4 separate regions of the Homo sapiens genome follow, and regions 1, 2 and 4 are each linked to region 3. Evidence: fine-mapped expression QTL. A gene starts in region 3. Each other region holds a variant in brackets. All regions are shown on one strand. Distances are between the middles of the regions.

Region 1 (8,103 bases), 56 kb before region 3:
CAAGAAAGAAAGACCAAAATGCCTTTAAATAGTTTCCATGCCATCAGTGGTCCAAAGGACTGACTTATCAGTTGCCCTGAACAATCTCCCAGTTCCACAGAAACACATAGGGGGCTGCAGCAGCCAGTTTAAGTTTACCACTTAATCGCACAAGTCTAGCTGGTGTCAAGCTCTTAAAGGAGTTGATCCCCGGGAACGGGGAGAAAAATGAAAAGGAAATAAAATTGAACAGTTGCCTGCAGAAAACACCAGCTGTGCATGATTGATTTCCATGTAATCTCCATTTGTCTCCCTGGAATTTCTTCATCAGATTTCTGGCACAGGGTCACAGGGAGGCCTGATGCTGCTCATGCCTAGAGTGTGGTCAAGAAAAAAAAATTCCCTTATATGCCCCTGAAGGCCAAGGAGGCCAACATGGGTGATCTGTGGGGTAGCAAGAGAGAGAAGCTTTTCTTCTCCTCACCCAAAGGCAATACTCAGACCATAGGCTTCTGCTGCCTAGGGTAAAGGGCAGCCCTGTAGGCTACTTTAGTAGAAGTTTTGTCTCTCAAACTGGTAGACTCCTGTGACATGGGGAGTTTGTGCCTCTCTTGGGTATCTTCAGTCCATCAACTGTTTGGGGCAGGTGTCTTGGCCCTGACCACAGTTGGTATATAGGACTCCTCCATGGACCCATCTATCCTGAAACCCACAAAGGGAAACAAGTTACTGGGGGGGGCTGGAGTTGGCCTTGGTCTTACTGGTGGTGGGCATAGGATTAAAAAAGAGTAGGAGAGAATGGAAGGGCAGGATGAATTCTACTCTGTTGTCATTTCAAAGTGCCACCCATTTTGCTTGATTTATGCTGTCTGCCTTGGACTGAATGCCCTCTGGTATTAATATTGGTGTGTGCATTTGCCTGCTTTGTCTCTGCCCACTGGAATGGAGCTCACTTGCTCAAAAGGAACAGAAAGAGCACCTAGGACAGTGCGGTCCCCAGTCCGGCAGCATTAGCATCTCCTAGAAACTTATTAGAAATGCAAATTCTCAGGCTCCACATCAGGCCTACTGAATCACAACTTTGGGCATGGGGGCCAGAAATCTGTGTTTGAACAAATGCACGTCAAGACTAGACCAGGAACTGCATTATGTGAAAGGAAAAGGGGCAAGCCCAGGAACTTAAAGTGACTTACCTAGGATCAGATAGCTGGTAACACAGGGACTAAACTAGAAGCTGGATTTGACTCCCAATCTTTCTCATTGCACCAGAAAAGGAAAGCAAAGCTGCAAAGCTACTGAGAGCTCTTTCAAAACCATTCTTAGCCATTTCTAGTATCTCCATAGACATTCCAGCAACTTATCTGGAGCCTGGAGCCTAAAATACTGCCATTCCTCATATGGGACTATAAGACTGGGTCAACCTCTCCCGCTCTGACTCCTCTATATGACCAGCATGAAAGAAAAATGCCCTCATTCCCTCAGTGGCCTAAGCCAGAAACCCAAGGAATGGTGAGGCGCAGCAGTTAATGAATCCAGGAGCTGATTTTTTGAAAAGATCAACAAAATTGATAGACCACTAGCAAGACTAATAAAGAAGAAAAGAGAGAAGAATCAAATAGACGCAATAAAAAATGATAAAGGGGATATCACCACTGATCCCACAGAAATACAAACTACCATCAGAGAATACTATAAACATCTCTATGCAAATAAAGTAGAAAATCTGGAAGAAATGGATAAATTCCTCAACACATACACCCTCCCAAGACTAAACCAGGAAGAAGTTGAATCTCTGAATAGACCAATACAGGCTCTGAAATTGAGGCAATAATTAATAGCTTACCAACCAAAAAAAGTCCAGGACCAGATGGATTCACAGCTGAATTCTACCAGAGGTACAAGGAGGAGCTGTTACCATTCCTTCTGAAACTATTCCAATCAATAGAAAAAGAGGGAATCCTCCCTAACTCATTTTATGAGGCCAGCATCATCCTGATACCAAAGCCTGGCAGAGACGCAACAAAAAAAGAGAATTTTAGACCAATATCCCTGATGAACATCAATGCAAAAATCCTCAATAAAATACTGGCAAACCGAATCCAGCAGCACATCAAAAAGCTTATCCACCATGATCAAGTGGCTTCATCCCTGGGATGCAAGGCTGGTTCAACATAGGAAAATCAATAAATGTAATCCAGCATATAAATAGAATCAACGACAAAAACCACATGATTATCTCAATAGATGCAGAAAAGGCCTTTGACAAAATTCAACAGCCCTTCATGCTAAAAACTCTCAATAAATTAGGTATTGATGGGACGTATCTCAAAATAATAAGAGCTATTTATGACAAACCCACAGCCAATATCATACTGAATGGGCAAAAACTGGAAGCATTCCCTTTGAAAACTGCCACAAGACAGGGATGCCCTCTCTCACCACTCCTATTCAACATAGTGCTGGAAATTCTGGCCAGGGCAATCAGGCAGGAGAAAGAAATAAAGGTATTCAATTAGGAAAAGAGGAAGTCAAATTGTCCCTTTTTGCAGATGACACAATTGTATATCTAGAAAACCCCATCGTCTCAGCCCAAAATCTCCTTAAGCTGATAAGCAACTTCAGCAAAGTCTCAGGATACAAAATCAATGTGCAAAAATCACAAGCATTCTTATATACACCAATAACAGACAAACAGAGAGCCAAATCATGAGTGAACTCCCATTCACAATTGCTTCAAAGAGAATAAAATACCTAGGAATCCAACTTACAAGGATGTGAAGGACCTCTTCAAGGACAACTACAAACGACTGCTCAATGAAATAAAAGAGGATACAAACAAATAGAAGAACATTCCATGCTCACGGGTAGGAAGAATCAATTATCATGAAAATGGCCATACTGCCCAAGGTAATTGATAGATTCAATGCCATCCCCATCAAGCTACCAATGACTTTCTTCACAGAATTGGAAAAAACTACTTTAAAGTTCATATGGACCCAAAAAAGAGCCCGCATTGCCAAGTCAATCCTAAGCCAAAAGAACAAAGCTGGAGGCATCATGCTACCTGACTTCAAACTATACTACAAGGCTACAGTAACCAAAACAGCGTGATACTGGTACCAAAACAGAGATATAGACCAATGGAACAGAACAGTGCCCTCAGAAATAATGCCACATATCTACAACTATCTGATCTTTGACAAACCTGACAAAAACAAGAAATGGGGAAAGCATTCCCTATTTAATACATGGTGCTGGGAAAACTGGCTAGCCATATGGAGAAAGCTGAAACTGGATCCCTTCCTTACACCTTA[T/C]ACAAAAATTAATTCAAGATGGATTAAAGACTTAAATGTTAGACCTAAAACCATAAAAACCCTAGAAGAAAACCTAGGCAATACCATTCAAGACGTAGGCATGGGCAAGGACTTCATGTCTAAAACACCAAAAGCAATGGCAACAAAAGCCAAAATTGACAAATGGGATCTAATTAAACTAAAGAGCTTCTGCACAGCAAAAGAAACTACCATCAGAGTGAACAGGCAACCTACAGAATGGGAGAAAATGTTTGCAATCTACTCATCTGACAAAGGGCTAATATCCAGAATCTACAATGAACTCAGATAAATTTACAAGAAAAAAACAAACAACCCCATCAAAAAGTGGTCGAAGGATATGAACAGACACTTCTCAAAAGAAGACATTTATACAGCCAAAAGGCACATTAAAAAATGCTCATCATCACTGGCCATCAGAGAAATGGAAATCAAAACCACAATCAGATAACATCTCACACCAGTTAGAATGGCAATCATTAAAAAGTCAGGAAACAACAGGTGCTGGAGAGGATGTGGAGAAATAGGAACATTTTTGCACTGTTGGTGGGACTGTAAACTAGTTCAACCATTGTGGAAGACAGTGTGGCGATTCCTCAGGGATCTAGAACTGGAAATACCATTTGACCCAGCCATCCCATTACTGGGTATATACCCAAAGGACTATAAATCATGCTGTTATAAAGACACATGCACACGTATGTTTATTGCAGCACTATTCACAATAGCAAAGACTTGGAACCAACTCAAATGTCCAACAATGATAGACTGGATTAAGAAAATGTGGCACATATACACCATGGAATACTATGCAGCCAAAAAAAATGATGAATTCATGTCCTTTGTAGGGACACGGATGAAACTGGAAACCATCATTCTCAGCAAACTATCGCAAGGACAAAAAAAAAAACACCGCATGTTGTCACTCATAGGTGGGAATTGAACAATGAGAACACATGGACACAGGAAGGGGAACATCACACTCTGGGGCCTGTTGTGGGGTGGGGGGAGTGGGGAGGGATAGCATTAGGAGATATACCTAATGTTAAATGACGAGTTAATGGGTGCAGCACACCAACATGGCACATGTATATATATGTAACAAACCTGCACGTTGTGCACATGTACCCTAAAACTTAAAGTAAAAAAAAAAAAAAAAAGCGCTTAAGATATCACCAGACATCCCTGGCCAGGCCCACTTTTATCCCAGATGCTTACCATTTCCATTGTTTATTGACGTCCATAATATTTCAAATGAATTAATCATACACATCCTCTTTTCATCATTACCTGGTAGACTAAATGCTTAGATTCTCCCCTCTGATTGTGGCTTACATATATTAATGTATTAATATATGAAGATCACAAAGTGATAAAAGTGTTCAAAAGGTAGAATTTATTAAAGGACGACTATATAATTAAAAAAAAAAAGCCAGAGCTCGGAGTCCCAGCTATATGACTCATTCACTGTGACCTGAGGACAAGTTTGAACCTTTCTGAGCTAGTTTTCTCAGCTGTGACATGGGTAGAGCAAGCTTACAGGGGTAGTACCCACTGGTGAGGATAAAATGAGATCACCCATGTCAGGTGCTTAGCACCATGCAGGGCACATAGCTAAGTGCTCAATGCACAACAGCTGTCATTGCTAGCCTCAACATCACCTGTCCCTCACCTCCCCGTATCCGACTGGTGACCAAGTCGTGCTGACTCCACCTCTTGGACTCTTCTGTCCTCTCATCCTTGTCTTTGCATGCCCATCCTCACTGCCACCATGGTGGCTCTAGTTGTCATCTCCACCCCCTTGCATCACCACACAAGTCTTCAACAGCTCTCCTGGACTCCAGTGTCCATTCCAGCCTGCTTTCCAGGCTGACAGCCCAGTGAGCTTTCTAAATTGCAAAGCTGTGCAGCTCATTTTGCTGCATGAGCTTCCAGAATCCCTGCAGTGGCACCCCATGGACTTCAGCTCCAAGGAAGAACCCACAGGCCCCTGGTGATCAGCACCCCCAATCTCTATCTTACATCTAGGTCTCCCCTCAACTCCATGTTCCACACTTAAGGAGTTTTGAGACCACCAAAAATGGTGAACTTTTCATACTGTGCTGTGTTCTCTCTGCTGGGAAAGTCCCAACCTCCATTTGCCTAGAAAACACACATTCATCTTTGAAGATATACCCCAGCAGTGATACCTCCTTGAGACCTGGTTCCAGGCTGAAGTGGCTGCCCCTGCTTTTTGCCCTCTCTGGCTGCTGCCTTTGCTTCTCTCACAGCACCTGTTCCCCTTTACTGGGCTCACGTGTTTTCACATCTGCCACCCTTGCTGTCTGCCGGATTATCACTCCATCCTGGGCAGTCCTCCAGCATAGAGAAAACACTCTTAACTAACTTATTACACGGATAAGCACTGAACTCCCCCAATCTCACCAGTCCCAGCTTTGCCCTCTGGGCTCACAGTAGAAACTTGATCCAGCATTCCCCCAAAAAAGCCTTTCATATGTTGGAATCTCATCTCACTTTCAAAGCAGGTTGAAATAATTCTTTTTTTTTTAATTAAAAAAAAATTTTTTAGAGACAGGATCTCACTATGTTGCCCAGGCTGGTCTTAAATACCCAGCCTCAAGCAATCCTCCCACCTGAGCCTCTGAAAGTGCTGGGATTACAGGCATGAGCCACTACACCCAGCCTCCTGAAATAATTCTTAATATTATACAAATGTGGCTGTGGCTATGCAAGGAATAATACAGGCCACATGACTGCTATCTAACTACGTAATCCATCACTTGCTAGGCGGTCACTCCATTCCCAGCAGTGGCAAAGCTCCCGTTTAGGGAGAAAATGAGCCTTCTCATCCCTTGCAGGTTGCGGAACATGGCAATGAAAACTAAGTGCTTGCTGTCATGGTCCGAGCCCTGGGCTCTGGTTCTGGTTCCTGGTGCTGCTACTCACCCACTGAGTGACCAGGGCAAGCTTCCTCCCTGTCTGGGCCTCTTATCCTCATCTATAAAATGAGGACTCTGGCCAAGAAGCTCTCTAAGCACCCTTTAAAGCACTAACATCTCAGGAATGTAAATCCTTATTAAGCCACCAGTGGCTGAAGAGATGGGGACCAATTTATAATATCTGTCAAACAATGGCTTAGAGGAAGAATTCTGAGTGTTAAGACCAGCTCCCCTAGCAACTTCTTGAAATGCCTTTAGACAGCAATACTCCTTCCCTGAAAGATCTTTGAAAGAACATAATAATAACAACTTTCATCAACGGTTTACTCTGTGACAGACCCTATTTAAAGAATTAATTCTATTAACTACTTTAATCCTCATGATGACCACATGAGAAAGAACTATTATTGCTTCTCTTTTATAGATGAGAAAACTGAGACACAGAGTGGTTAAATAATTTGCTCAAGGTCACACAGCTATCAAATGGCAGAACAGCAGTCAAATCCAGGTAGTCTAATTCTGGACTATGCATTATTAACCACTACGTAATATTGGCACTTTTGGTTAAATTCTCCCCAAAAGGGAAAGTTGCTTATGTGGGAAAGTATACCCAGGTACACCTGGCAAGCAGTCCTATGTTAAATAGTACTCAGATGGAAACAGGAAGAGTCAAATAATTTGTTCAACAAATATTGCATTTCTCTTCTGTCTGTTATGGGAACTGCAAATGCTCAGAAGTGAGTGGGAGTAGAAAGCAAAAGAGTAGTCCCTGTTCCCGAGGGAGGATACAGTGATACCATCAATGACAGTGTACCAGGCACACTGCTAATCACCTTCATTCATTATCTTATTTGAGATAAGATAAGTTGAGACCCCATCTCTAAAAATATTTATAAAGTGAGGGCTGATGCTATCTCATTTTGCAGATGGGAGAGAAGGCACAGAGACATGAAGTAACCAGCTCAAGGTCACACAGCTAGTAAGTGGCAGAGCTATAATGTGAACCCAGATCTGCTTGTGTTTCATGGTCTGTGCTTTTAACAGAACTGACTTACTACACTCTTAGGAAAGTAATTTAAGCTTTGCAGAATCAAAAGACATGCCAAAATAGAACAAATAACAAAGCTGTAAGAGACCAGGGCTGAAAACAGTAACTAGACAAGCTTGAAGCACTTTTAAGGAGTGGTGGCTATTGTGCTCCAAGGAGACCAATGAAAAGGAAGGGCTTTTTAAAATGCATGGGTTATATCTGGGAGTCTGGGTTGAGGGTAGGAGCTAGAATAACCTCAGACACTTTAGGCAGACAAGGTCAGCAAGGCTGAGCCAGGACAATACTGTCACACAGAGGAGGGCTCTGAGTGCTTGGGCATAATCCCACAAGTGCCCACGGTCATTGAGCTCTCAAGAGAGTGACAGGAGGGAAGCAGGGATTTAGGAGCTTTTGCCTGGCCACTGGGACCCTCTCCAGGGAGGGTTTATGCCTCATAGGATCACAGTTATTATTAACCCTGGAAAAGCTGCCTGGGCAGATGCACCAAAGAGTATTCAAAGAGCATAATACAGGAGAAGCAGGAAGAAGAAAAGTGCCCGAGGGACACAACAGTGCTGCAAAGGGCCCAGGCTCAGACCAGCAATTCTCAAACCATAACAGTCACCCTAGAAACCTTAAAATGCAGCTTTCTGGGCTACCACCAGAAAAGTGCGGCCTCAGGAGGTTCAAAGTGGGGCAGAGACTGTACCCTCCTCAAACAAGATGGCTGTCCTGCAGGGAACCCTGGACCAACCTAAAAAAATAGTGCTTTATTATCAAAAGACTCATCGAATTAGACTGAGTGGAGTAGAATCAAGACTCT
Region 2 (8,103 bases), 210 kb before region 3:
CAGCCATGTCTGAAGCTAGAGCTACCTTGGACTTTCCAGTTACAGAAGCCTGTATATTCTTTCTTCGCTAAGCCAATTTGATTTGGCTTTTTGTCATTTTCAACTGAGAGTTTTGACCAAGCTATGTGATAAAGGCAAATTATAATTTGAAACCAAAAGGTGTAATTCCATCAGCAGCTGGAATTTCTAATAATCCTTTGAGGTGCAAAGGTTGCTGCTACTTTCATCATGAAGCACAAAGATAATCAGTTTTAAAAAATGACAGCCACATGATTGGCAAGCAGAGGCAGCAGGTGAGGAAAGTGTTTGTGAGTAGACTTGGGGACAGAGGAAGAGGGAATTCTTATGTATGTGATGAAAATTCCTGATTCCATCTGCAGTGTAGACCCCACCCAGTGAGAACTTCTGATATGTGATATATCTGAGAGCAAAACTTCAGGGTTCAGGGGAAATTCTCCGCTCCAAAACATCTTTCTTCAACCCCTGGCTGTTGTCCCCCCACCCCAATTTTAACTCTTCGGTTTTACCTCCTTCGTAAGTTTTTTCCCTATTGCAATCTAAAATTTCCTCTGAAAGGTTAAAGGGGAGTTAGCAGTTTAAGCTGTTATCAGTCATTTGCACCTCAGTGTGAAGGATTGCTCTAGGAGCAGAAGGTCAGGCAGGGGTCCCAAATGTTTAAATGTCTTCTATAAAGAGCCGGATAGTAAATACTTAGGCTTTGCAGACCATATGGTCTCACCTCTGATGTAGCTATAAAGCAGCCATAGACACCATATAAATGGTGTGGCTGGGTTCCAGTAAAACTTATGGATACTGAAATTTGATTTTCATGTATCACAAAATATTCTTCTTTTGATTCCCATTCCCTCTAATGATTTAAAAATGTAAAAACCATTCTTAGGTCACAGGCCATACAAAAACAGGCTGCTGACTCTGGAGTAATGGAGAAGGAAGCCAACATGAGGGAGGCCCCCGCACTGAAGACAAAATTCACCAGTTCCCCCATTTTGCTGGCTCTGAGTTGGGGACCAGGAAACAGCTGAATTTCCTTGTTGCTACCTAGTTCTTCCTGAGTGCTGAAGAGTCCACAGTGGGTTAGAAAACAGCTCAGGAACAGTGTTTATCCCCACCAGGCCCCTGCACAGAAAAGGCTGTGTTTAATTTAAAACTGTGCTAGAGGAAGTTGAAGGCCTAACAGAGACTGTCTACATGAACACTCTGAAACACAATATTTCCTCTGCTTTTTCCAGTATGTCCACCAGGCTCTTTTGGCTCACTGTCTAACCTGCTCGAGTCACAGAGGTAATGAGGGTAGTTTCACTCCAACTGAAAACAAGTCTGGACACTCTGACCATGGCCAGACTGGTTAAGAATGATACTGAAATTTACCAGTGTCATTCTTAAAGGATTGAATAACATCATATTTTAATTCTAATTATAATTACCATTTTAATTAATATTGCATAATTGTATCTTCCAGACACAGCTTGAAAAGCTCTTTCTCCCAGATTTTGAACTTTTTTGCTACAGTTCACTGTTTGCACCAAAGGAAATGACTTTACACTTATTTCTCTCACATCTCCCCTTGTTAGAGACATAAAAAGGACCTTGGGATTTCAGTGGGCTTCGGGCTCCTCATACCTCTACTCTCAACACCTTCCTACTTCCGAGTCCCAGTCCCGTCTGAGGCCCAACTGTACTTCTTGTGCTTGGATTACAGAGATTTGCCTGGATCCTTGGAGTAAGTCTCCATTTTTGTTTCACCAAGTTTGAGTAGTTTCTGTTATTGCCTTCCCTAAGATCCTTTTTCCAGAGGCAAAGATAAGAAAGATTTCAGCAAGTTTAGTAAACAATGTAAGACTGGCTACTTGTTCCTGAGGCAGGCAAGCTGGTGGACAGCTCATCCTTCCTGAACTGCTTCTACCTCAAGGCTGTCTGGCTGTTTGTCCTTCCGGAGTCCGTACAATCTCAGTTTCTCTCTCTATCTGGCTCTCTCGGAGCTATTAGGACAACTCTCAAATCTATCAAAATGATCATCTAGGGGACAATGCTCTAGAAGGCTTAGGATGTGGTTATTAAAACATTGAGCACTTTTTTTCCCCCCAAGATGGAGTCTTGCTCTGTCGCTCAGGCTGGAGTACAGTGGCTCAGTCTCGGCTCACTGCAACTTCCGCCTCCCGGGTTCAAGCCATTCTCCTGCCTCAGCCTCCCTAGTAGCTGGTATTACAGGCGCACACCACCACGCCTGGCTAATTTTTGTATTTTTAGTAGAGATGGGGTTTTGCCATGTTGACCAGGCTGGTCTTGAACTCCTGACCTCAGGTGATCCGCCCGCCTTGGCCTCCCAAACTGCTGGGATTACAGGCATGAGCCACCACGCCCGGCCCACTGAACAAATATTTTAAATGTGGTCTGCAAGTAATTGAGGGTTGTTAGTCACCATAATAAAAGGCCGCACCTGATTCAGGCATCTCTGTGGTTCTGCGAACCCACACATAATCAGACCTGATGGATCACAGAGTCCCTGGGGAAGAAGCCATGAGGCACCACTCAGATTGTTAAGTGGCTTAAAGCCAAACACAGGACGATGCTTCAGTACAGATAGGTAAAAGAGAAATACGTTAAAATGCCTAAACACAGAATTTAGATAAGACTTTTAAATACATGTTCCAGTCTTTATTGTTAATATTGATGCTAACACTAATAACAGCAGTCACTGTTTAAGGAACAATTGCTATGTGCCAGGTACCTGTCAGACCTACACAGGTTTGAATTCTGGCACTAGTTACTTAATGTTTCCATCGCCAACATCACGTTTCATGTTCCCCATCCCTAAAATGGGGTTAAAAACAAGTGAGAATTAAGTGAGATAAGTAAAATGCTTTGCATGCCTGGCTCGAAGGGAATTTTTATAAGTATTACTACAGTTAGCTCTTATCCACTGAATTAATCTATAATAATGGTTCTATAACAAGCAGGAGGCGGTAATGTCTCTTTATCAGGTGGGCCTTTTAAAAAAAAAAACAACAGCAACAACAACAACAACAAACTTTCTTTGAGACATGGTCTCGTTTTGTCACCCAGGCTGGAGTGCAGTGGCACACACAGCTCACTGCAGCCTCGACCTCCCTGGCCCAAGTGATCTTCCCACCTCAGCTTCCTGAGTAGTTGGGACTACAGGCACACACCACTGCGCCCGGCTATTTTTATTTTTAGGTGAGCCTTATCAACAACAGCTCTGCAGAGGAAAAGAATGCTTTAGGGTTGCTCCTGGTCTGGAGTTGGAGTGTCCCCATGGTCCCTTGTAGCCGGAAGAGTCTCAGTCTTGGGCGTACCGAGAGAGCGTGCGCTTTTCCTGCCTGGCTCCCTCCTCAGGGATCGCCAAATGGCCTTTCAGAAGAACGCGATTCCTGCTTCAAGGGACTGAACCTAGAACCTACCCCCCGCCCGTGTCGGATGGGGCTGTGGGCAGCGCGGATGGCTGGTGAGGGCGTCGTTAGGCTCTGCTACCACTGGAGGGCACTGCCGGCTCTCCTTTCCCTCCACGCGGCCCCTGACACTTCCCGGAGCTCAGCTCCCACCCACTGATGGCTCTCAGGGAGACGCGCGGCCTCTTTGAGCCTCTCGGCTTTCCTTGTAAGTCACAGGACAACGCTCTTCTAGGTCCCGGGGGCTGCAATTCTACACGTCAAGGTTGTCAAGTGGAGGAGGAGGCAGCGCCCTGGACAGGAGGCAGTGCGGTCTAATGCCAACCCGGCCAGCACCGGGGTCTCCTGGCCGGGGCGGGGCTCACAGGCTCCCCGGAGGGAAAGCTGTGCGGGGGTCCTTTCCAGCTTCCCCGCAAGGCTCTTTCTATCCTCTGGGGACCCTCCCTCCTCTTCATTTTTCTTTTGTGGTCACCTGGATTTATTTATTTTTTTCCGAATACATTTAATATCCAAACCAAAAACAAACTCTGGCTGACAGATTTCCATTTGCAGCCAGTGGCCAATTTAATTGAAGCAATGATTGATAGAAACCATTTTAAGGCAATGAAACAGTTTGACATGCAGAGGTTTTGGCAGTAAGAGTAGACAGGGGGTGAGGAGAAGAGAAAGACACTGACATTTATGAAGCCCACTTCCCCTCCAGAAATTTAGTACGCAAGCTTTCCCAAACACACCACACCACACCACCTGTATTAATATTTATCTAACATGTTTTTTTACATCACCTCTGGTCTAACTTTGCACCTACTTTAGCTGTATGCTAAGTAATAATATCTGTGAAATTACAGGTTAGCTACACGAATACACATTAATTTAGAATCCACATTAACTTAAACACATGAACAAGAAAACATTCCTGTGTTTGCTGCCTAAGATCGTCTCCTCTGTCACACTCTGGGAAACAGTATCACCTCCTTAATTCTCCTGGCAATGCTGGGAGTTGGAAAGAATTAGCTCTCTTTAAACAAAGGAGGAAACACAGGTTCAGAGGACTTAAGCAACCCTCCCCAGGTCACATAGCAATGAATGGTTAAGTAGGGATTTAAGGGAGTTCTTTTAAATCAGATTTCACCTGGAGAATGGGAGGCACATCCTCAAACCCAGAGATCACATAACACAGTCTAGGGCCCCAGGGTGCCTCAGTGCAGCTGATGGTCCTAGGCCAACCCCTTCTACCCGCCAAGGAAAGCCACCACCTTACCCGGGCCAGGCTGACTCC[G/A]GCCGGGACCTTGTAGGGCACATACTTCCTGTAGATATGGCCCACCCTGGAGCAGGGGATGTCCTCCATGCGGCCCCCACACATCCACACCTGCATGGCAAGAAGGAAGAGAGAGGATGACGTTTCTGCTTCCAGTTCACCATCCCGCCAGGCCAGCATCCCTTAGTGCACTCAGCAAAAGCATCAGCCTGGATTGTCTGCTGAAGCCTGGATCACAGACCTAATGACATGGGAAAACACAGTAATATAATAACAGCGGTAAAAACAGCTGACAGCACTGAGTGCTTACCATTGCCACACACTATGCTAAGATGGTCACATGCACAACCACACTTAAGCCTCATCAGAAAACCTATAAAGTAGGTAGTAACATTTTACAGATGCTGAAATGGAGGCTCAGAGAAGCTAAGAAATGTGACTCAGGTCACAGAGTAAGTGGTGGAGCCAAAATTTAAACCCTGTTTTAGCTGACTTCAGAATCTGAGCTCTAATCCACTATGGAGTGCTGTGTTGAGAATTCTAGGGTGGCATCGGGGGATCAGTGGGAAAGACCATGGTGATCACAAAGTGACATCAGCCACAGCATAAGTAGTCAAGGTGGCACACAGGTTCCGTAGATTTACTGTCACATATTTATTTTCCTCCTGGATCTATGAGCCTCTCGCTGGGTCTCCCTGAGCAGTTCCGTCAGCCTCCCTGCCCTGCCTTCTCTGAGTCTGGCTTGCTAGGCTGTGCAGCTGGGTCTTGCCGCAGTGTGGGATCTGATGGTTCTCTTTGCCTCCCTCTCCCAGGGAGGAGTATTTGACATCACAGAGAGCTCCTGAGTTTGCCCACTGGTCTGATAGCAACTTGGGAATGTGAACATGTACAGCCAATACTGACTCATACCCACTGAGGGGCCCAGCCTACATAGACCCTCCTTGGGAGGCCTGGGTTTGAATCCTGGCTCAGCCACTTACCCACTTGATGACTTTGGCCTACACAGACCCTCCTTGGCAGGCCTGGGTTTGAATCCTGGCTCAGCCACTTACCCACTTTATGACTTTGATTAAGGTACTTAACTTCTCTGAGACTCAGTTTCCTGTAAAGAAATAGAGGAGGCAGGACTGGAAGATGAGATATTGTGTGTAAAAGGGTTTAGCACAAGATCTGGTGCATACTCAGGACACAGCAGTGAATCAGTCAGCCGAGGCCCCAGCCTCCGAAGTGGCCTCACAATCCCTGCCTCCTCGTATTTGTGCCCCTGTGTAGATGCCTCCCAGTGAGTCACATGAGGACTGACCTGTGTAACCCACAGGATACTGCAGAAATGACGGTCATAAAGATGCCGTGGCTTCCACCTTTCTCTGTGGGACCGCTGGCTTTGGAGGAGCCAGCTGCCATGTTTGAGGACACCCCAGCCATGCTGTGGAGAGGTCCATGCGGTGAGAGCTGAGGCCTCCTGCCCACAGCACTAATTTGCCAGCCAGGTCAGTGAGCCACCAAGAAGCAGAGGTCGTGGTCACAGTCAAGCCTGCAGATGACTGCGGCCCTGGCTCATGGCCTGACTATTCTCCTATGCGAGACCCAAGGTGGAGCTATCAAACCAAGCCACTCCCAAATCCCTGGCCTAGGGAAGCGCTGCCATCATAACTGTGTATTGTGTTAAGATGGATTCTGGGGGTAATTTTTCCTGGCATAGGTAACTAACATGGGAGATGGTTTCAGGTGGCGATGGCAGAGCAGGGCCATTGCATAGATTCGTTGTAGGGGTGTATGGGATGTGAGAGATGCTACTTTATGCTCCCCAGTCAGGGAAAGCCTCACTTCGGAAGGGATGTTTGAGGTGGAACCAAGAAGGTGAAAGTAAAGGCAAGGGAACGGGTGGGAGAAGAGCAAGTGCAAAGGCACCAGGGCAGGGCCAAGCTTGGCATAATCAAAAAGAAAGCCAGGGCAGGAGCAGAGGGAGAAAGGGGAAGAGGGATGGGAGGGGAGGCCAGAGACGCGGGCAGGGCTCCCGCAGGGCCCTCACGGGGCAGAACAAGGAGTCTTCACAGAAGGTCTTCAGTGAGGGAGACACACAATCCACTTACATCTTACAAAGATGACTCTGCCAGTGGGGTGGAGAACAGCCTGATGGGGCAGGCCTCAGGGAGAGTAGGCCCGGGAGGCTCTTGCAGTCGTCCTGATATGAGACCGTCCTGACCCTGGGTGAGGGGTGCTGAGGCGATGGGGGGACACAGCTGGATTCAGGACATTATTATGAATCTCGCTACCATAGTCTCTCATTTGTGGAATGGGGGGCAGGAATGGGGACATCTGCAAACCAGATTCTGTGCAAAAGTGCTCTTTTCAGTTGGAACTGCTCGATGAGGTCGTGGGGATTGGGCTTCACATCTTGATTAATTCAGGGGCTCTAGAAGGGCTTGCTCTTCCACCTGGCTCCTAAAAGGTCCTTTGTCCCCCACTACTTCCTGCTGTCTCCATCCCCAGCCCTGATGTACTCTGGCCCTCCCGAGAGGGGATGTGCACAGGGCTGCAATTATTGGAAGTGCTGCCTGGAGAAATGCAATTATATTCTGATCTTGGGGGAGAAAAAAAAATCCAGCCAGTCAATAGAACAGAACATTGGTCTCGAGATAATGGGCTCCTGATGGTAGATTAATGTCAAGGCCAAACCAAGAAGTTTATTTTCAAAGCAGGAGATATTGATCAGGCGCCAGCATCCCATAACAATAACTCTTCCTTTATACAAAGTGATTGATGTGGAAGTGATGCTTTTGCCTGGCGGGTATTGCCCAGGTCGCTGCTGGGCTGCCCTCTGCCTTTCAGGTGGTGCAGTGGCCCTGAGCAGGTGGGACACCTTACCCTGCTCTATTTCTGAACGTCTCCCGGGCAGTTGATCAGGTCGGCATCCAGCTTCCTTGTCTTCATATTAAACTTGCATTAGCTAATGAGGCTCTGTGTCCAGCTCTGCTTGGCAGAGGCACCTAACTTTATGCAGGTGGATGATAAATTTCCAAATCCTTCTCTTTGCTGTGACCTCTGGTTTCTTTGGCCCCAATCATGCTGGCCATCAGCCTGAAGGTTCCTGAGGGACCAGGGTGACCCTGATATGTCGGGAGGCTTGAGGCATCCAGGATGCCCTCAGATTCCTGGGATGTCTGGAGGGTTTGGTCAGTGGGTTTACTCCATGGCTTCCCTGCCCAGCACAGGATGCCCTGGTGGCCGACTCTGAATGTGAACTACCCTCAGGAAGACAGACATCTGCTCAGATGAAGCTGCTTCACTCCTGGGTCCTTTGAGAGCATCCCAGTGCAGGCCACGCCCATCACTTCAGAATGTCCTCTGGCCTGACCAAGAGCCCCGTGCAGCCCTCCACCCTCACCTCATTCCACTCACTTCTTGCTCACCACA
Region 3 (8,103 bases):
CAATGTCTGCCCTGGCCATGGGAGGGGAAGCATCGTTACAATATGCATTTGCCTTTTCCCTTCTGAATCTAAGCCTCACTTAGCAGATGAGGAATCCAAGGCCCAGAGAGGTTAAACCTCTTTCCTGAGGACACACAGTGAGTTTAGGGCAGGAGAAAGGACTAAAAGCCAGGTCTCTGTTCCCAGGCCTTCCTCAGCTGGACTCCTTGGTAGACAGCAAGCCAAGAATGACAGAAAGAATGTAGGGAGCCGGATTTGTTCTGGCAAATCAACAACCCTTCCCTAGTGGCATCAGATTTCACCTGGGCATGCAGACAGAGGAGTGATTAGCAAGCTAAAGGATACTAGCCCTTCTGTGGAAAATTAAGGAAATCGTTCCAAGGCTACATTTCTATACTTAACTTTCTGATGGGCAAGGCTTCTGCCACCAGGAAGACTGAAAAAAGAGAAAAAAACATTGATTTCTGGATGTTCTAAGAATAAAGTTCAGCTCTAACACAATGAGAAAGAAATCCTGATACTTGAAAATTAAAGTCACCGGTATTCCATTATTCCACCAATTTCTATTCCACATATGCTATTTATCCAGTGAAGTCATTTTTCAACAAGAGATTATGGCTCAGAAATGAGGAGAGACTGCACTGAGTTTCTAACTTGAGCTTTTAATAACCTGTCCCAAACCTGGAATATGAAACAGACTGTTGAATTAAACCAAGATGTTAAACAGATTGGGGCTTGGAATGAGAGGGACCCACAAATTAAAAGGAAGATGTCTTCAAGGCTGGCATTTCTTGCTTGGTTTTGCAGCTTCCCAAGAAGCCAACTGTCTGACCAGATGACTGCTGAAATCCTAGAAGCATTATGTGTCCTTTATAAATCAGCTATCCCACCCAGCTCCAGAGGTACTCCCAGGATGAGCTGGCATGAGTTATGTAGACTTTCATTCTAGCAGATGATAAACACTATAAATTTGAAACTCCGTTCTTTAATCCAGTGGAGAAATCAAGGAGTTAGAGGACTACTCAAGTAGTGGATATGTTACTCTCAAAGAATCTTCTTTCAAACCCATATGGAACACATTTTTCATTTGGATAAAGTCCTGTCAGACTTCCCTCCAGAGCCTCTGCAGTTATTTCTACCAGAAGGATCAACGAGATGCTCAAAGATGATTCTCAACAATTACAAGAATGACAGGCTGAGCTCAGAACTGGTCAGCCCTGTTGAAAAAGCTCTGTATGCTCAAGATGCCAGATTTCCCAGATAGCAGCCTGGCATGTTACATGTATGTTCCAGTACACTGGGATGAGGGATGGAACACCATCACTCTGAGAAGTCAGCCTCTTTCCTCAAGGCCAGCTGACATTCAAACAACGGACTGGGGGCCAAGCCCAGTGCTCTGCATCTGTGGGAGAGTGAAACAAAAAGGGGCTGTGTGGAAATTTGGCAGGGCGTTCTTGAAAGGCAGCAGATGAATGCTGAATCCTGTAGCACCTAGAAGAGCTTATCATTGGGGAAACAGCTCCATTCTGCTGCTCCCATGAAGCAAAGAGATTTTCTTTAAAGCAAGAATAATCAGTTGGTATTCCCCCCAAACCCCCAAACCCCCTTCACCACTTCTTCCTCCTCCTCTTCATGCTATTCCAGAGAAAAAGAAATGAACAAAAACTAGATCTTCCCAGATGAGCCTGTCTATCCATTTCAGTTAGGGGCTCTGAGCAGCACCCAGCTGTTGCTCCCCTCTCTCTCCCTGCCCAAAAGTCTGCCTTACTCTATCAATACCCTCTTGCACAAGTGAGTAATTTACTTTGAAAGCTCAGGCCAAACTGGCAGTTAACCTTGACCTTCTCTACCCATCTGGGTCTACAGAAATGAAAATCAGGATGTCTTTGGCATCTATTGCAAATGAAATACGAGGTCTTTCTCCAAGCAGAGGCAGAATGTCAAGCACTATTTTAGAATGGGCTACAGCTATTCTAAAGGAGAGTTTGCACTAGGGTAGGACACTCCCCCTTGACCTGGAGCTGTGTCCAGTATGGAGCCTCCACAGCTAGGGATGCTACAAGGAACTCTGGACTCAAGACAGAAAAAAAGAAGGGACCGTTGTATTCCTCATTGATTAACTGATAGTATCACAGAATGTTAGAACTGGACCAATAATCATGGTTTACAGACCAAGAAAGTAAGGCTCAGAAAAGGAGATGAAAGGTGATCAAGGACACACACAGTAAGTTAGTGGTAGAGCTGAGGTCAGAACCCTGGAACTCCTGACTCTGATGCTGGTACTGAATAGGAACAGAGGAAAGAGATTTCATGAACGGAAAATCCATACAGATACAGAATTTCAGGGAGAGAGGTCTAAGCTAGCTGTCAGGGTTTGAACCAGGGGTTTAGGAAAGAGATGGAAACCTTAGTTTCTAAACAGTAAGCTCTACCAGAAAGATCAATGAGACCCTCTGGGATGCTTTGCAGCAATTAACAGAGTTACAGGCGGAGCTCAAATTGGTCAGCTCTGTAGCAAAGAGCCCTCTGTGCTCCAGATGCCAGACTGCCTAGACAGCAGCCTGATACTGGGAAGAATAAGGAAAACCATCAATCTCAGAAAAGCCAGCCTCTTTCGTCGAGGCCAGCCAACAGTCAGTCAAGTCTGACCCTGATACACAAATTATCCACTTCTCATGGGACCAGAGAAATCCCGTAAGAAAGCCTGAAATGTTCCACTATATGAAACAGTCTAAGCAATACACTCACTAGCACCTCCTGGGAGGGTGGGAGTGATGTGACAGAGCTTCTGCTATGAGGGAGCTGCTAGTCTAAATGCGTGCACGCACACATACACACAAACATACGTGGGTAAGTTCAAAGGAGGCAGAAACCATTCCGATCCCAGTTTTGGCTGCAATAAACACTACAACTAACCAGACTAGACAAGTTCAGAAGAGATAGGGAAGGCTTCTGGTGTTCCATCCTCAGGACACTGGGCACCAATAGCCTCTGGGACATTTTGGGGGTCCCCCCACCAGAGCCCCACCTCTGGACTCCCATAAGGTCAAAGGCAGCAGGTCCCTCAAGGACCAGGAGCTTACCCCCTTCTCCACCCCCAGGGGCTTGAAGCTTTAAAGGGAGCATGATCTTTACATTCTGCAAGGAATCCACAGGATCTGAGAAAGGAAAAGGCTAGAGTTGGGGCGGGGGTGTTGAATAAATGGGGAGAGGAGGAAGGCCCGGGTGTCTCGTTGGGCAGATGAGAAATCAGGAAAAGGGCTGACCTGAGCAAAGAACACTGGGATCAGCAGGTAGGGGTTGTGGGGGGGGGGGGGTGGGAGGAGGGAAGCAGAGAGGACCTGGACACCAAATAGAAGAACCAGAATCTTCATTCCTATTGGCACAAGGCAGGAGTCATCCTGGGATACAGGGATGCAGATAGGATCCTTCAAAAGAGATCCGCTGGAAGACGTCAAGGAATACCAGACGGGGACAGAAAGGAAGGTGGTAACATGTGGTGAGAAATAGCGTCCTGAGTGCTAGTTCGGACTCAGTCTCTGACTGGCGTGGGACCCTGGACAAGTCCCGACAGGACTTAATTTTCCCATCCGGAAAATGGGAAGAGCTGAAGAGTCTCGGAGCTGACTCTGAGGAGGCAGACAGCAGAAGGTGGAGGAAGGAACCACAGGCTAAAAGTGAATTCGGGAAGGGGGTGTTCCCGGCCTGTAGCAACGGGGGGACTCACCTGTCCCGCCGCCGGCGCCACCGCCGCCCCCGATCCCCCAGGGGTGCCGTCGGGCTGCCGCTCGCGGTACAGCGCCCAAAGCCCCACGTTGGGCAGGAGGACCAGGGCCGCCAGCACCAGCGCCACCGCCTGCAGGAGCCGCTTCTCCTTCCGCCTCATCGGGGCCGGTCAGCCCCGCCGCGCCCCGCCGGCCCCGCCGCGCCGCCCCCAGCTCCGCGCGTCCGCCCGTCCGCCCGGCGGCGGCAGCAGCTCAGCCAGCAGAAGCGGCTGCGGCGCCGGCCCCGCTCCAACTCCGCGGCACTTCCGCCGCTCGCCGGCCGGGGAGCTGGGCGCCGCCACCACGCCGCCGCCACGAGGGGGTCGTCGCCGCCGCCACCGCCCCCGGGCCCCGCCGAGCCGCCCGCCCCGCGCCGCCTGCCCCCGCGTCGACCGCCGAGTCTCTGCGCTGCAGGCTCGGCCCTCTCACGGAGCGTCTCGGCCCGCCCGGGCGCTGCAGGATGCCGGGCCGGAGCGCTTCCCCCCTCTCGAGCCGCGATGGTCCGTCCCACTCCTCGGCGGCTCCCCCGCCCTCTGGAGCTTTGCGAAAGTCCCGGAGTTGGCGAGTTGGGCGCTAACTGGTGCGGGCTGGGCACCGCTGGGTGGGGTGCATGTCCGCTCGCCCGGGTACCCTGCCGCCCCGCCCGGCAACCTCCGCCCGGGACTGCAGCCGAACCTTTGCTGCCTCCCTGGGGATATGCAAATAGTGCTGGGGCCCCGCCGGGCGTTCTGAGCCTGGAGCCCCCGGGGCTGTCACTTCCAGCCCACCTAGGCTCGGCCCCCAGGACCTGCGGACCTACTTTGACCCCGGCGACTCGGTGTTCCCGGCCATGAAACGGGGCCACAGCCGTGCTGCACGCTCACTGTTCCGCGGGCGGGCCCTGGTTTTCTTCCTCTAGGGGGGCCCTGGCGTTAGGTGTGAACGCCCTCTGCAAACTGTAGGGAGCTGTGCCCGGCCGCCGCCCGTCTGTAGATCCTGCAAACCGGCGGGTGGGTAAGTGACGGTAGCCTCTCTGCAGCACCTTTCCTCACGCAAGTCCAACCCCCTTGGAGTTAGAATGCCCTGCATTCTCACGCGTGCTTTTGGATCCTAAGCGCACTGAGCCCTTCCCGGAAAGCTCTCAGCAAACCGTTGGCGAGCGCCACTATGTGCCAAACACTGTGCCAGGCTCTGGGATGAAATGAAAACAGACCTGAGCCCTGACGTCTGGGAGCTGAAACATGAAACACGTAATTTCACTAGACCAGGCAATGTGTCTGTAACTGTGGCGAGGGCTTTGACAGAGGAGTCGGGCTTCTGGGCGATGCGGAGGGCCGTGGAGCCGGACTCCGACGGTGATGCCAGCCAGCGGCTCCTCCTCGGGGCGCTCGACGCTGGTCACTTAGCTGCCTCCTCCCTGATGCGGTGGAACGGAGCACCCCCTTGGCTACCTTACTCTCTGCCACCCCCACATTCGTCCTCTTGATTCTCTGCTTCTCTAGCTCAGCCGCTGACCTTCGTGCCTAGCTGCCACTAGTCCTTGACCAGCGTTCTGGCAACTCTTGCCTCCAAGTTCTTCCAGCTCCAGGCTGAGCGATGGGGATTCAGTTTTCTGACATCACAGCTCAGTTCTTGATTTCTGCAGCAAAACCTTCAAGGCTTCCATCACCTCGGCTCTAGAGTCCATCATGCTCCTCTCCTATGACCTGCTAGGGCTGATCAAACGTTCTGTCTCCTGCCGTGCCCTGCCCTGCCCTGCCCTGAGCTTCGCTTAGCCTGTTGCAGGCTTTGTGTTTTCCTTCTTGTGCTGTTGACCACGCAGCTCCTTCTACCCATAAAACCCCCTTCTCTAGGTCGGTGGAAATCTTGTTCATCCTTCCGTGTCTAGTTAAACTGCCACCTCCTCCACGAAGCCTTCTAAAACTCCTCCTCAGGGAACTGTTTTCTTTCTTTAGATTTCCATCACAATAATGCTTACCTTTTATTGAGTGCTTACTCTATGTCAGGCAGCCCTTGAGATGCATTACCTCTTTAAATGCTCACAGTTACCCTGTGAGGTACATGCTTTTCTTATACCCATTGGCGAATGAGAGTCAGATTTAAAAATGCATGTAATCCCAGCACTTTGGGAGGCCAAGGCGGGCAGATCACGAGGTCAAGAGATCGAGACCATCCTGGCCAACATGGCGAAACCCTGTCTCTACTAAAAATACAAAAATTAGCTGGGCGTGGTGGCGGGCACCTGTAATCCCAGCTACTTGGGAGGCTGAGTCAGGAGAATCGCTTGAACCCAGGAAGCAGAGGTTGCAGTGAGCCGAGATCGTGCCACTGCACTCCAGCCTGGCAACAGAGCGAGACTCTATCTCAAAAAAATAAATAAATAAATAAATTAATTAATTAATTAAATAAATAAAAGAATGTGGCAGCCAGAATGATCTTGTTTTATCCAAGGTTAGATTGTATCGCCCCTCTGCTCAAATCCCTGTAGTGGCTTCCCACCTCTCATTAGGTTCCTAAGAAAGTACAGGACCCTACAAGCCCATATGTGATCAGCTCTCACTCCTTACTGTCCTTATTGTGCCCCAGTGACATTGGCTTCCTTGTTGTTCCTCAGAGCATCCCTCAGGCAGGCACAGTCCTGCCTCAGTACCTTTGCACCTGTTGTTACCTCTGCCTAGAATGGCCATTTTTCTATTTCTAGCTCCTAACTCTATGTCTTTTTTAAACACATTTTTTTGTGATAAACGTTTGTAAAACTGATCATTTGAACTATTTTAAAGTGTACAATTCAGCGGCATTATGTAAATGCACATTGTTCTGCAGCCATCACGGCTATCTATCTCCAGAACTGGTCATCAACCCAACTGAAACTCTGTACCCATTAAACACTAACTCCCTATTACCCTCTCCCCACAACTGCTGGCAACTACCCACCATTCTACTTTATCCTTTTTGAATTTGACTATTCTAGGTACCTCATGTAAGTGGAATCATATCATATTAGTTCTTTTGTTTCCAGTTTATTTCACTCATAATATTTTTTAGATTCACCCATGTTGTAACATGTATCTGAGTTTCATTCCTTTTTTTTTTTTTTTTTTGACAGTGTCTTATTATGTTGCCCAGGCAGGTGTGCAGTGGTGCAGTCACTGGTGCAGTCATAGGATTATAGCTGGTTGTAGCCTCAAACTCCTGGGCTCAAGCCACCCTCCCACCTCAGCCTCCTAAGTAGCTAGAACTACAGGCCCATGCCACCACACCCAGCTGATTTTTTAAAAATCTTTTGTGGAGACCGGGTCTAGCTATGTTTCCCAGGCTGGTCTCAAACTCCTGGCCTCAAATGATCCTCCCACCTTGGCCTCCCAAAGTGCTGGTATTACAGGTGTGAGCCACTACGCTCAGCCAAATTCCATTCCTGTTTTCAAGATTGAATACTATTCCATTGTATGTATGCCACATTTTGTTTATTCATTCATCAGTAGATGGACATTTGGGTTCTTTCTACCTTTTGGCTACTGTGAATAATGTTGCTATGAATAGCCCTATGTCTTCTATACTGCAGTGGATACACAGTATTTATGTAATTAAATAATGTTGCAAAAAACTTTTAGGTGCCACTATAGCACTGAGCACAGTGCTGGTAACAGAGCAGCTAGAATGTTCTTTTTACACACACAAGGCTAACTCTGCTGCTGGGACTTGCCTATGGCTTCTCTTCATGTTAGAATATGTCTATGAAGCCAGGCATGGTGGCATGTGTCTGTAGTCCTGTCTACTCTGGAGGCTGAGGTGAGAGGATTGAGCCCAGGAGTTCAGGCTGCAGTGAGCTATGATCACAGAATTGCACTCCAGCCTGGGTAACAAAGCAAGACCAAGTCTCTCAAAACAAATAAACAGAAAACAACCTACAATCTATGAGAATCCTTACCACAGCCCATAAGGCCTTACATTATTTGACCCAACTTCTAATTTTTGCCTTCTTTCCTTCTCTTCTAGTTACACTGGTCTTGCTATGTTCCTCAAATGTATACCAAATTGATGATTCCCTCAGGGCCTTTGCAAATTTACTGTGCCCTTGTCTAGAAATCTCTTCCTCTACCCCTCTGCATGGTTCTCTCTCCGCCTTCTCTCAGGAACCAGATCAGGGGTCCTGCCTCAGAGAGAGCTTCCCTGACCAGCTGATCTAAGATATCAACTAGCACCACCACCATCTCCATTTGCTTGATTTTTCTCCAAAGCAGGTATCATTTTTGGTCTCCCTGTCTAGAATGTGAGTTCCAAACAGACAGGAACTTTGTATTTGCCTTCTATGGTGTTCCGTGCCTCTGTCAGCACATAAAGTCACGTACTGTTCAACAAC
Region 4 (8,103 bases), 97 kb before region 3:
GTGCTTTTCGTTTTGGTTTGGTTTTCTTAATTCTAGTGTGAAAATGGGGAGATTTCATATTGTTTTATCAAGATTTTTGGCTTCTCTTGAAAACCTAAAAGACATGCCAGTACTGGGCTGACTTCCCTCAGCTCATCAGCTGGGCTGTGTGGATGGGGCACGTCTCCCCAGTTTGCCACAGTCCCTACCATTCCTTATTGCATTTCACCTGCCTCCCATATCTCATTTTTGTTACCTGCCTGGCCCTGGTGAGCTTGAAACATGCTGGGATATTCAGGAATGTATCCTGGTTGGGAAAGATTAGAAACTATGAGGACTAGGAGATAAGAAGCCCTGGAGGACATGGGAGAAGTTATTTTGTTCCATGAAGTCCTAAGGCTACACTAAGGGCCAATGGTAGATGTTACTGAATGATTGAGGGGCCTCAGACAGAGAAGAAATTCCAAAAGTTGGGTCGCTGCTAGGATGAAATAAAACCATTTGGAAGAAGATATTAGAAGTGGCCAGGAATAGAAAGATTGAGTGTTCATCAGGATGTGAAGGAGAAGAATCAAGTGCAGGGTTGGGACTAGTGCTTCTCAAATTTTAATGTGCAGGAGAATCATGCATGGATCTTGTTAATGCTGATTCTGGCACAGTAGGTCTAGGGCGGGGCCTGAGATTCTGCATTTCTAACAAGAACCCAGGTGATGCTGACGCTGCTGGGCCAAAAAAGACACTTTGAGTAGCAAGGGTTAGGCAACCTTTAAAGGGCCCTTCAAGAGTCTAAGATTCCATGAAGGATACTATTTCCTCTACAAGCTTGTGAAAGTCTTCCAGTGCTACTGGGAATGGGGTACAGGGATAAATCTCACTGTTTTGACCTCACAGAAGTAAACCCCTAGAATCATGTTCTCAAAATGAAACACTGGATTGCTGAACTGATGGCATTGAGAATTAAGGCTCCAAAATCCTGGGAGTTTCATACCTAACTCCACTGCCTTTGCCTTATGATGCACACTGCTCCCTCTATCCCTCCCTCCCAGGGTCTGCAGAGATGAACTATGCTGTTTTAGGTCTCATTGGTCCTTATACCTTCCCTAAACCAGGAGGACTTTGGAGCCTGCTGACACAGGGAGTTCTACATGTCTAAGCACGCAGCTGCTAGAGTCCTCAGCCATCTGAGCTAAATAGCTGCTCAGAGACAATTAGTACACCTCCGCTCATCTTACAGATAAAGGAACTGAAGTCCAAACAAGCCAAGCTACCCAACCAAGGCCTCACAGCAGGCAAGAGGATAAAAACCATGTCCTTTGACTCCCAGGTTAGTTTTTAGTGGGAAAGAACCCTTGAGTGTGACCTTGCATGAGCTACAGGAGTCACAGGTACCTCAATTTTCCCACCTGGAAAATGGAGACAGCACTACCTGCCCAAAGGTACTTTCAGATGAACGGAGACAATCACAAACAGTATAGCCTGAGCGCTCTCCTAATTTACACATGGATTGAGGACACTGACTCCTTTAGGATTTTAAGAATCTACTGTAAATTGACATCTCACCAAATCATGTAGATATAAAACTCAAATTTTATTGTATAGGTTAAAAAGTATCCCAGTTATAGGTCTGGGCCTTCAGTAGGGTGGAAAACTAGTTTCAGTCTTAAAATTATAGAGTTGGTCAGGTGTGGTGGCTTACGCCTGTAATCCCAATACTTTGGAAGGCTGAGGTGGGCGGATCACTTGAGGTCAGTTTGAGACCAGCCTGGCCAACATGGTGAAACCGTGTCTCTACTAAAAATACAAAAAAAAAAAAAAAAAAAAAAAAATTAGCTGAGTGTCATGGCACACACCTATAATCCCAGCTATTTGGGAGGCTGAGGCAGTAGAATCACTTGAACTCAGGAAGCAGAGGTTGTGGTGAGCCGCGATTGTGCAACTGCACTCCAGCCTGGGCAACAGAGTGAGACTCCGTCTCAAAAAAAAAAAAAAAAAATTACAGAGTACATGGAGCCTGAAGGGCCCTAAGAATCCTATCCAAAAACCTTAATGGAAATTGTGGTCAATTTCAGGTGGTTTAGGAGCCTCTGAGGACAATCCATGGAATTTCTAGAGATAGTGCAGATTAAGAAACCCCAGATCATCTAAACTATCACCAAATGTTTACTGACACCTACTCTGTACAAAGCAGTGTGTCAGGCACCAGGGATTCAGGTTTGACAGCACAGATACTGTGTAGGCCTAATGAGGTTTACAGAAAGATCAGTCTCTTTCAAAAGGTGGTTCTTGGAGAACCTGGGCCCTTATTATAGATGCAAATTCCTGGACTCACACCCTGAACCTACTAAGTAAAAATGTCTACAGATAGGAGCCCAGGAAGATACCTTTTTTAGAAAACACATTCTCCATGTGATTCTAATTCACAATAAAGTTGGAAGACCTTTGGTCTAAATCTAGCTGCCTCATTTTACAGATACGAAATCTGAGGCTAACAGAGTAGAATGGACTTGCCCTAAATCCTACAGCTTGTCAGCCCCAAGGACCAAACCAGAGCTTGCAGTTCTCTCCCTGGAATAGACTGTAAGCTTCTTGAAGGCAGGGGCATTACACCACTGCACTTTCCTAGGCCAATACCTGACTAATCTTAGGCCCTTGAAAAATACCAGCTGAATGAATGAATGAATGCTCATCAATGGGAAAGGTAGTCTAGTTTAATGACTTGGAACATTCTGGTTCCAGAGTTAGGAAAACCTAGGTTTTACTTCCTGGGCAGGTGGAGCCCAATTTCCCTGACTGATAAATAGAGAAAACTAACAGAATAAGAGTATCTGTTGGGAGGATTAACTGAGCTAATCCGGGACAAAGTGTCCCAGTGTCTGGGACAAAGTTAGGTCCTCTCCTAGTAAAGGTGAGCAACTATGAATACATTATTTTTAGGGAAAGTTTATGAAAACACGGTATGTTCCAGTGTTTGTGATAACCATGTTTGGAGGAATAGGAGAGCGAACAGGAAACTAATAAGGAAAACTGTGGGTCCTGCAGAGGCAACCTATCTACCACCTGATTCAATTCAACTGGCTCTTGCTGATAACAGGATTTAGAATTTCCTCATTAACAGGATGTCATATGCCCACATCGAAACACAGTGTTCTTCAAGGAAAGAAAAAAGTCTTAGTTAATAGTGGCATTCTACAATAGAAACAAATGCCACAAGACCATTAACAACAGAAAAGGCAGGAACATTGCTTCTCAAAAGACAGCAATTATGCAATAGCAATCACTTAATATTATGTAAAAGATCACGTCTGGATTTTTCAATCCAGAGGTAATTTTAAGTTTCTTTAATTCTGTAAGCTCAAAGATTTGTCTACAAAAGCTGTAATTATTTTCCTTCAACAACCATCTTTTGCTACTTTGCTTTCTCTTGGTTTCCAGATGTCCTTCTGCTACAGGAAGCAAAGGGGTTAGGAAGGAACATGGCAAGAAGTGAGGGAGAGTGTGTGGAGGAGACTGGCAGAATCAATGTGGAAATCACATTAAATAATAAATTGGCAATGGATTTTGACTGGCTGCTCTAAATAACTGCTTCTGGTATCTGCATGCTTTTACTTAACATTCCACTAAAAGAATCGATTAGTGTTCAAACACACACACACACACACACACACACACACACACAAATGGAATTTTAATCTTTGTTTAATCACTATTTAGCAGGCCTGGCAGCCTTTGGAGGTAGGAAAGAATGGTGGTGAAGCAAGCCAACTACATTCTGCTCAAGAAGGAAGATTTGTTAAAGTGCATACTCTAATCCCAAGACTGCAGACTTGGCAAAGAGCATCTCTGGCTGAGCTGGCTAGTGTCTTCAAAACAAGGAAAGGGCTGTATGCGCTCAAACAGCAATGTTGGAAGGAAAGCTGAGCAGGTCATCTGCTTCATCCACAGTCTGAGGCTGTGTTAGAGACCAGGCTCTGCTGCAAATTTTAGGATGGCTCCCCTCCACCTTCCTCTCAAAGAACCCTACAAAGGCAATGAAATGATTTTGCTTTGAGGTTTAAATAACTATATCATTTCAAACATCTGTTTATCTACCAAGTAGATTAATAAACTTCTCTCTCTCTCTCTCTCACACACACACACATGCACACACATGCACACTCTCTCTCTCTCTCTCACACACACACACACACACACACAGCAAAGCAATTTCTTCAAGATTACCTTCAAAGAGGACCAGGTAGGGCTTAATTTAGCTCAAAGCATATAAAGTTTAAACAAGGGAGTTTGGACAATTAGATAAATGTACTTTCTTCATGAGTTTTGAGGACATAAGCTGGATTGTTTTTATTAATTCATTCATCCAAACAATGATTATTGAGGGCCTACTATGGCCAAAGACCTCTGGGAGAGACAAAGATGAACAAGGTAGTCCATGGCCTCCACAAACAGCTATGAGACAAGTATTTAAGGAAGGAAAACACACATACACACATACAAGCCTATAACATAGTGCCTTGAAAGCTGTACAGATAAATTCGATAGATATTTACAAAAGCCAAAAATTAAATTCTACCTGGGACGATCGGGGAAGAATTCCTGCAGAAGCAGAGTCTTTGACAGGAACCTGAGAGAAGGGGTAGGATTTTAACTGGTAGCAGTTGAGGGGTGGGGGTTGGGGGTGGAATCCAGCTAGAGGGAAAGTATGTG[G/T]AAAGAATGCGAGTTAGAAAGTGAAGGGCATATTTACTTAAGGGCAAGGAGCCTGATTTGGCTGGAGTGAGCAGGATGCAAAAGTGAGTCACGAGCAATAAGACCAGGAAGGAAGTCTGGACCAGAATTGGAGGGCCTTACATTTGAGCTGCTTGGCAGGTGGGCAGCCACAGTAAGCCTTTGAGCAAGGAACAGGCTGAAGTAGAACTCCAAGAATAAAATACGTTACTACCTTTCCACTTTCAATTAATCTCAGAATCCTCCTCCTCCCATGAGAAATGCAAGGAGAAAGATGATTTTGTTTTCATTCAGAGAAAATGTCCCCTTTTCATAGGCTGAGGATCATTCATTCTGGTACCCCACAGTCAGACTTAAGTGAGGCTGACCTAACCCTAGCACCTATTCAGTAGGCTGCTGTTTTGAGAAAACTTAACTTTCACTATAACCAGGACCAAGCTGTATGAGAAAACAATCAAACCTGAATGGCACTATTTATGAATGGAAGGAGGCATTACAACCCAGCAACCACGAGTCTATGTCTGCTGGGCCCACGTCAGGCAAGTCCTGCTGTTCCAATCAGCAATGGGGCTGTGTCTGTTGTCCCCACTCCAGTAACTCCATTGTCTCAACACCAGGATGCTGAAATCTGAAATCTGGCCCTTCTCTAAGAGGGGAAGGTCACTCACAGATAGGAGCCATTGTTTCAAAGGGCTGATCCTGTGTTTCCAAGGGCAGAACCATATCAACCCTCCAATTCCTTTGTTTGGTGTAGGTGGCTCTAGAAAAGGTCATTTGCTACGTAAGGCATGAAAGCTCATTAAAAGATTTTTTAAACAGCAGGGAGAAAAAAAAGCCAAGATACTTTGGAATGTCTGTTATCTAAAGGGCAAATAGAACCTTCAGTAGCTTTTCCCTTCCATTCTAAAAGAACAATTTCAACACTTTCTTCAGGATAAGTGCCCAAATGTTTTATCACTGGGAAAAAAAAAAAAAAACAAATCGACTCTGATCAATAATTTGATAATGTTCATCTGAGTCTCTTACCTATCAATCCATCTGTCCATCTGTCTGTCTGTCCATCTGTCCATCAACTTAAGTGTATGATGAACACAAGCACAAATCAAGCCTTGTGCTAGGTGCTGAGGATATACTGGTGAGGAAGACGGACGGGGTCCTACTCTCATAGAGCTTATAGAAGTATGTGTGGTGGTGGGGAAATGTAGACTTTCATCCGAAACTACAGGTAAATTAAAAAAGCTACAGTGGCAGGCCATAAAAGAGGGGTACATGGTACAAAGATAGTCCCTTTCTTTCAGATCAGACTGGGGGGATCTGATCCAGCCTGCAAGGTTTTCTTGAGAAAATTGGATTACAGGTTAACTCAGTAGAAAGAGGAGTACACAGCATTCCAGACAGAGGGAAAAGTAAAGATATGCAAAGATTCTGTGGCTGAGCAAACATGAATCATAGGAGGGCCTGGAAGAGCAGTGTGTGTGGTGCACAGAGAAGCAGGGAAAGTCTGGTAGGAATGAGAGGTGGACAGGGGTGAGGATTCTGTCTTTCCTCCAGGAGCATTTAGAAATACAAGTGTTTTCTATAAGGAGGTGATAAGATCAGGTTGCATTTGGAAAGCTCTCTTGTAGCCAAGTGGAAAAGGGATTAGGAGGCCAAGAGGAGGGGTGGAGGCTGGGAAGGAGGCTATCACAGTGGTGCAGGCAGAGATGATGTTAGCTTATGCTGGGAAGGCAGAAGTAGGGGTGGGCACACACAGATTTTTTTTAAAAATAGGGTTACTAGGGTCCTGTGGGTTTGAGTCAAGAAATAGAGCCTGAGAACTTGGACAGTCAGGTGAGAAGTTCATCTGTAAGAGCTGGATATCAATAGTCCCACAGATGCAGGTGAAACCCACCTGGGACCTGAGCCCAGCTCTCCCCTCACCTAGCCTGGTGTCTGTGTCATCACATGTTACTTTTAAGTTTCAATACTGTCCATAGAAAGCAAGTCAGGAGATCAGACCTAATGAGATAGGATTTTATGTCTATTTCACCTTCAAGAATTCAGTGACACATAGTCAAGAAAGAAGAGAGAAATCCTACAAGGGTGGTGGTGAGCCTCCCGTGCTCATGCAGAGTGTGCCTTTGCCCTCACAGTGTCCCTGGAGGCCCCAGTTCTCTCTGGCCCCTGGAAGTGTGAGCGCTCTGTGCTGGGGGAGCCTACTCTAGGAAGATAAGTATTTTCATTACCTCAGAAGGCACTGTGATTACTTCAACCAAAGAAACAGTTATCACTGGTGTTCAAGCTGGATTTAAAACTGCCCACACTGGACTTTTGAGAGGTGGTGTGTCTTCATATTCCATGAGCGATTGTCAAGGGTGATTCTGATTTTGTGTTATTTTCACCTTAAGTGGTGGGTTTATTATAGCCTAACTCTTTCATGAGATTAGACTTGACTATATTATTATCGTCATTATATCCACTTTGTAGATGACAAAACTGAGGCTTGGAGAGAAAATCGATATGAAAGCGTTTTGCAAACTGCCAACCACCACATGAGTGTAATCATCACAGCTAATAGCACCTACCACATGTACCTGCCCATTCCTTCCCAAACTCAGTATCTAGAAAGGCTGCAGGAACATAGCCCTCAAATATGGAAAACGTGCTGAGATGAATCATACTTCTGTACCAAGAGGGCAATTCACAAGAGGTTTTGAAAATCTCAGTCTAGCTGATGTGTGATCAATCACAGGAAAGCCCCTAGAAAGTGCTCTTCTTAGAGGCTTGACGGGCTGGGCAGGAGCAAGGGCTGCAATATTGCTCTGCACAGCAGCTGTGGATGGGTAAAAAGAAAAAAAGGAACTGGAAAGCTCATCAGAAGGCAAGTTCCTACTTTTCAGAGAGAGACTAAAAAATGACTGCAAACACATCCTATTAATCTCCTAGCTGGGTAAGTAGGGTTGAGCCACGCAGTAATAAAGTACTTGCTCTAATAATAGTAATAATTATAATCATAATCCCCTACATTCTGAAGACAGCAGACCAAAGTGAAGAAGACCATCTGCTTTGGCATCAGAAATGCCTAGGCTTGTGCCACAGTTCTGTTTATTAGCTCTGTGATCTTGGGCAAGTTACGCTATTTTCACAAGCCTTGGTTTCCCAACTGTAAAATGGGGGAAATTAATAGTACCTAGCATAAAGGTTATTATGAGGATTAAATGAGATGCAGCAAGTATAGCTCTTAGCAGTGTTTGGTATCTAGAAAGCACTAGCAATGCTAGCTACCATTATTAGTTACTATTTGGTAGTATTTTATAATTTACAAAGCATTTTTATATTTATGTCCCATTCCTTCCTCTCAGTTGCACCAGGGTAAAAGCAGACATCACCAACCTATTGTAATATCCTTCCTTGTGGATCCCA

Direction of the effects. Positions count from the first base shown, and alleles are read on the strand shown. Sizes are in standard deviations (SD) of each study's normalised expression. Not every link is listed here.
In carriers of allele T in region 4, the expression in tibial artery of the gene that starts at base 4,020 in region 3 tends to be lower than with G alone (small effect, 0.17 SD a copy in GTEx).

Evidence for each region.
Region 1: its variant is fine-mapped to the expression of GALNT10 in whole blood (TOPMed, PIP 0.90).
Region 2: its variant is fine-mapped to the expression of GALNT10 in whole blood (TOPMed, PIP above 0.99).
Region 4: its variant is fine-mapped to the expression of GALNT10 in tibial artery (GTEx, PIP 0.95). The same link has a PIP of 0.9 or more in aorta.

What each region holds. Positions count from the first base shown.
Region 1 is chr5:154,242,177-154,250,279 of GRCh38, reverse strand. All of the region lies in intron 1 of GALNT10 (polypeptide N-acetylgalactosaminyltransferase 10), which reads right to left. Among named protein-coding and RNA genes, the nearest start is that of GALNT10, 55 kb to the right of the region's middle. RefSeq lists a silencer at 5,588-5,637. The variant T/C (reference allele first, on the strand shown) is at 3,294.
Region 2 is chr5:154,400,798-154,408,900 of GRCh38, reverse strand. GALNT10 (polypeptide N-acetylgalactosaminyltransferase 10) reads right to left here. Exons shown (of 12, transcript NM_198321.4): 8 at 4,690-4,797. The region is part of intron 2 of SAP30L-AS1 (SAP30L and GALNT10 antisense RNA 1); the gene reads left to right. Among named protein-coding and RNA genes, the nearest start is that of SAP30L-AS1, 41 kb to the left of the region's middle. RefSeq lists a silencer at 3,508-3,557. The variant G/A (reference allele first, on the strand shown) is at 4,708.
Region 3 is chr5:154,186,650-154,194,752 of GRCh38, reverse strand. It overlaps GALNT10 (polypeptide N-acetylgalactosaminyltransferase 10), which reads right to left and starts at 4,020. Exons shown (of 12, transcript NM_198321.4): 1 at 3,728-4,020. The coding sequence starts at 3,886. It overlaps LOC124901118 (a long non-coding RNA gene), which reads left to right and starts at 4,674. Exons shown (of 2, transcript XR_007059010.1): 1 at 4,674-4,757. RefSeq lists silencers at 3,725-3,784, 3,855-3,934, 4,025-4,134, 4,145-4,244, 4,335-4,424 and an enhancer at 4,645-5,610.
Region 4 is chr5:154,283,961-154,292,063 of GRCh38, reverse strand. All of the region lies in intron 1 of GALNT10 (polypeptide N-acetylgalactosaminyltransferase 10), which reads right to left. Among named protein-coding and RNA genes, the nearest start is that of MIR1294, 59 kb to the left of the region's middle. RefSeq lists a silencer at 6,081-6,375. The variant G/T (reference allele first, on the strand shown) is at 4,684.